2 separate regions of the Homo sapiens genome follow, and region 2 is linked to region 1. Evidence: fine-mapped expression QTL. Tissue or cell type: whole blood. Region 1 holds a variant in brackets; the other region holds the start of a gene. All regions are shown on one strand. Distances are from middle to middle.

The links. PIP is the estimated chance that this variant, and not a neighbour inherited with it, causes the effect.
Region 2: IFIT2 starts here. The variant in region 1 is fine-mapped to the expression of IFIT2 in whole blood (TOPMed, PIP above 0.99).

What each region holds. Positions count from the first base shown.
Region 1 is chr10:89,326,878-89,329,729 of GRCh38, reverse strand. It overlaps IFIT3 (interferon induced protein with tetratricopeptide repeats 3), which reads right to left and starts at 1,733. Exons shown (of 2, transcript NM_001549.6): 1 at 1,652-1,733. The coding sequence starts at 1,656. It also overlaps a transcript of LIPA not described here. RefSeq lists a silencer at 1,356-1,405 and an enhancer at 1,726-1,965. The variant C/G (reference allele first, on the strand shown) is at 1,682.
Region 2 is chr10:89,300,731-89,303,406 of GRCh38, reverse strand. IFIT2 (interferon induced protein with tetratricopeptide repeats 2) reads right to left here and starts at 1,361. Exons shown (of 2, transcript NM_001547.5): 1 at 1,279-1,361. The coding sequence starts at 1,283. LOC105378419 (a long non-coding RNA gene) reads left to right here and starts at 1,504. Exons shown (of 3, transcript NR_188200.1): 1 at 1,504-2,121. It also overlaps a transcript of LIPA not described here. RefSeq lists an enhancer at 1,334-1,653.

The DNA of each region.
Region 1 (2,852 bases):
GATTGCTGGTACTAATATATTTGTGTTATAATTTTAAGTGAATTTGTGAGTGTGTAAAGGGAGCAACAGAGTTCCTCAGTGGATGGGGCAGAGGAGGATGCCCATCAGCTGGCACGTGCCAGTGAGTTCTCCAGGTGATTTTCCCATTTGGAAATTTTTAGCACAACTGGGGAGGAGCAGCCCAATCTCTTCCTGTTCCTATAGCCTCTGGAAATAGGAGCACCTTGATGTGAACCTGAGTCCAGCATAGTTCAGAGAGCCCCCCTCAGACCTCCTCAGGTCAGTGGCTATAGACACACCTAAAGACAGGACCCTGTAAAACCTTTCCTGCAAGCTGGCTACTAAGACGCCTTGCTCTCTGGTCAATCCCACTCACACAGACACAATTAACATCACTCTTGACCAGGAACTTATTCTATATAAAAGGGTATTCTATATACTGAGGTATTTGGCAGTGAATTCCTCTTACCCATCTCATCCCCAAACATGACATTGCAGAGCATCTTCAAGTCCTTGGGGCAGAGTAAGGTAGGGAATCCAGTTTTCCTTTTCTGCCCCCCTGAATGGTCGATGGGGTCTTCCCTCCCTGGCAATCACCTCCTCACTCCTTTCCTAGAGATGCTTGGTGGGAAAGGCATCCTTTTCTCTTAGTTCTCCCTAACATGCTATCCCCTGAAGAACTCCAGGAGGTCAATATATAAATTTAAAAATCAAGTTTACTGAGATTATGCTTTATATACAATAAGATGCACCCATTTTCAGTGTATAGTCTGATGAGTTTTGGTAAATGTTTATGCATATGTAGCCACCATCACTACCTCCCTATAGACTATTCCTATGATTCTAAAAAGATTCTTTTGGGAGCCTTCCTACTCAATCCCCACCATCTCCAGGCAACCACTGATCTGCTTCCCACCATTAGAGATTAGACTAGTTTTAGATAATAGATTAGGTCATTACACTTTTGAGGAGAAATTCTTTTTTTGCTGCTGACCAGCATTCACTACATCAATAAAAATAAATGCTAAGCTTTGGGTTTGTTTTTATATAAGAAATGACAAAAATGCCCATTTGTAAGAATTGTTTCTTCCACTTCCCACCTTAAAGTAATGCAACGTTTCAGGGCAAAATTGCCTTCTTCATGAGTGGGTTTGCAGTACTGATTGTATCTTTCACAATATCTGTTGAAAATAAATTCCTCCTTTTAAAATTACAAGAAAAAAAGCCTGTGACTTAATCTTTTCAAACAAAATGACAATAACAGAAAAACCCAAAAGAGTAATTCCCTTAGGTCTACCCTTGAATCAGCCAAGTTTGTGGCTGAGTGAAATACACCGCTCCTGCCAAGCCTTCCTCTCATTGCAGGAAATAGCTGCACACAGGGAGGAAACATGAGCTGATGCATTCCCCACCCTGCCTCCCCCCATGTAGTTCCGTAGGGAACCATTCCAGAAACTTAAGAAGCCTGTGTGTACACCAAAAAAAGCCACAGGGAAAAACCCCTCAAACATCTTACAAATGCTCAGACTGATAAAGACATATTGAATCTATAAACATCAGGACAATTCAGGAATGTGCCTGCACAGTAAGAAACTCAACTTACAATTTGCACTCAAAAACAAGCATGATTATGCATTCTTATTTCACTGACCTCATGACTGCCCTCTGTGTCTCTGCTGTT[C/G]CGAAAAGCTGGTGACCAGGCTGATTTGTTCTTCAGAAGTCTTCCTGTCTGCCTCAAGTAAATACTGAAGGAACTATATAAAGGGGTGGGAGAGTAGGGCACGCATCAGCTGATGTTTTCTCCGTTTTTGAGTAATTGCTTTTAGGGGAAGGAAGAGGAAACTGGAAAGTGAAACTAATTTAAAATCGTTGGGAGGAGGAAAATGAAACCTAACGGCTTGAGACCTGCAATGGCTGAGCCAGAGTACGTTATTCAAAACTGTGACTAAAATTTGTTTGAGAGAATGTGGAAGCATTCCTAATGTAAACCAAAAAATTAAATTCTAAGGCCATACTCACCAACCATGTGACTGGACCCCTGCTTTTGGCCAAGGGCATTCCAAAGTTAACCTGAAAACTGATGTGAAGGGGAAGCTGGATATGCCTCATTACATCCTTTTTCCTTTTGGAATTACTAATAGAACACACTCTTTTTTTGTTTTTGTTTTTGTTTTTTTTTGAGACAGAGTCTTACTCTGTTGCCCAGGCTGGAATGCAGTGGCATGATTGCGTCTCACTGCAACCTCTGCCTCCTGGGTTCAAGTGATTCTCTTGCCTCAGCCTCCCGAGTAGCTGGGATTACAGGCACCCACCACCATGCCCGGCTAATATTTGTATTTTTAGTAGAGACGAGGTTTCGCCATGTTGGTCAGGCTGGTCTTGAACTCCTGATAGCAGGTGATCCAACCACCTTGGCCTCCCAAAGTGCTGGGATTACAGGCATGAGCCACTGCACCCAGCCAGAACATGCTCTTTTTAAGTGTATTAAGAAACATTTACAACCTATTCTCTCTGAAGCCTGCTACTTGGAGGCTTCATCTGCATAATAAAACCTTGGTCTCCACGACCCAGACATTCCTTTCTAATGATTGTCTATTGAATTTCTATTGGATGTCTCCAAACATTCCTTTCTATTGATAATAACTCTTTCAACAAATTGTCAATCAGAAAATCTTTGAATCTGCCTATGACTTGGAAGCTGCCCCGCTTCCCTGTTTCCAATTGTCCCACCTTTCTGGACCTAGCCAATGTACACCTTACATGTATTGATTGATGCCTTATGTCTCCCTAAAATGTATAAAACCAAGTTGTGGCCTGGCACATGTTCTCAGGATCTCCTGAGGGCTGTGTCA
Region 2 (2,676 bases), 26 kb after region 1:
ATCAACCAGGCTCAGAACTAATGCTACCACCGCAGTCTCAGAATCACTGAGGAGCCTTTTAGAAACACACATCCTCAGACTCTAACCCAGACCCACTTAATGAGAATCTCTGGGGAGTCAACCCTAGGACTCTGTCCTTAATAAGCTGTCCAGGCAATTTTTATGCATGCTCAATTTTGAGAACCACTGTCTTAGGGCACAAGGGCAATGCCCAGTGAAAGTCACAATAGATAAAGAATTAAGGAAAGAAAGGACAGATGGGTCTGTATTGTAATGGGAAAAATTCTAAGATAAGACCATGCTAAAATTCTAAGAAATAAGAAAAGGGTTCTATAGATTCTGGGTGACTACAAAAAAAAGAAATCTGTAAATATCTCAAATCTTTTTTTTTTTTTTTGAAATCAGGCAGAACATTTAGACTAGCAGGAAATAATATCGTTTCAAGAAGAGAAATCAGGAACCTCACAGACAGAGGGCAAGGTGTCTCATAGGAAGTAAGCACAGGGGTTGGTAACACGGGATTCCAGAGCTCCCAGGATGAGGGTTAGGCAACCAGGTCCGGCCACCCCACCTTCAAACTGGAGAAAATATTTCCCTTCCTATTCAATGAGCTAACACTTCCTCTCCAGGGCAGTCTCATGTTTTGGGGATAGAAGGGAATGTTAGAGGTGAGAACAGAACTATTTTCTCCAAGCACTCCATCTCTAATTCATACTCAGGAGGCATTTTGGGGTGAAAATATTTAAGTTTACCAGCCCTTGTGCAAATCTGAGATGAAGAACTACATTAAAAGTAAAATTCACCTTTGCAGGAAGTGGGGTTTGCTATTCTGTGTATATCTTTAACAGTATCTGCTGAAAAGAACCCTTTTGTTAAATAATTGTATTACAAGTCCCCAACTTAATCCTTTCAAATATGAAATAAGACAGGGTCAGTGCACAAGAGCAATGCCCCCAGACCCATCTTTAAGTGAAGCACCAGGCCGATGAAACATCATCCCTCTCTGCTGCCTTCTTTCTCTGATTGCAACTCAACTCCCCAGGCGTGCAGTTCTGGAGATGAATTTAGGAAGCTTGCCAGTGTGAAGCAGAAAATTGTTCAGGAGGGAACAAACCACCATTGGTAAGACAGATTTACAACCAACAGAGGTAGAGGCATAGTAAGGCTATAAACAAACACTAAAATGGAGCTGGCCCTCTTTGGGAACATAGCTTCTCAGGATTTGCATTGGACAAGATGACTCAACAGCACTACCGAATACGAAGGGAAAATATTTACCTCATGGTTGCAGTGCAATTCTCAGCTGTTCGGCAGGGCTCGGTTCAGGCAGCTGCACTCTTCAGAAATCTTCCTCTTCTGCCACCAATAAATGCTGAAGAGACCTATATATACAAGTGGCCTCTGGTTCCTTTTTGTTTGTTTCCCTTCAGCTGACGTTACAAAAGGGAAAGTGAAACTAGAAAGTGAAATTGGCAGGACTCTTTTTCTTTTTTTCTTTTTATTATACTTTAGAGGACTCTTTTTCCTCCGGAGCTGAGTTGTGATCAGAGAAAGAAGGCAGCAGAGAGGGATGTTTCATCGGCCTGGTGCTTCACTTAAAGATGGGTCTGGGGACATTGCTCTTGTGCACTGTCCCTCTCTTATTTCATATTCGAAAAGATTAAGTTGGGGACTTGTAATACAATTATTTAACAAAAGGGTTCTTTTCAGCAGATACTGTTAAAGATATACACAGAATAGCAAACCCCACTTCCTGCTAAGGTGAATTTTACTTTTAATGTAGTCCTTCATCTCAGATTTGCACAAGGGCTGGTAAACTTAGATATTTTCACCCCAAAATGCTCTTGAGTAAGAGCCAAGCCCAGCTGCGTAGTGAGTTAGAAGAACTTCCTCTTTGTGGAATGTACTGATGGCATCAAGGGAGCACAACTCCTAGGAGGACACATTTACAAAGCTCCCTGCCTTGTGATTACCATATTAACCCATCTTTGCTCTGCCTTATACCAATATGATCCACAGGCCACTGTAAGGAGCAGTTATTTAGCCTCGACAGGGCAGGGGATTTTAGTCTGAATCATTGCTGAATCTCCAGTCCCTGCAAAACAACCTGCACATTGCATGGTATGGCAAGCATTCCAAAAGTAGTTGTTGACTAAATGAATACATGATTAGAAGCATGGGCAGTGATGTCTGTCTATCTGGATTTGAAATCAGCTTCCACCTTTATGCTATGAAACTCTGGGGAAAATTATTGAATGTCTCTGCTTCGGTTTTGTAAATTGGGAATAATACAACTACTGGTTTATTGTGGTGTTGGGAGGATGAAATGAGAGAATACGTGAAATGTCCTTAGAATAATGCCTGGCAGTAATAAGTAAATGCTAGTTTCTATTATAATTATTAACTAAAATCGTTAACCAAAGTGATCAGAGGGGAAACTCTTTTTTTCAGGCTGGAGTGCAGTGGAAAGATCCTGGCTTACTGCAACCTCCACCTCCCTGGTTCAAGTGATTCGCCTCAGCCTCTCGAGTAGCTGGGATTACAGGCACGCACCACCACGCCCGGCTAATTTTTGTATTTTTAGTAGAGATGGGGTTCCACCATGTTGGCCAGGCTGGTCTCGAACTCCTGATCTCAGGTGATCTGCCCGCCTTGGCCTGCCAAAGTTCTGGGATT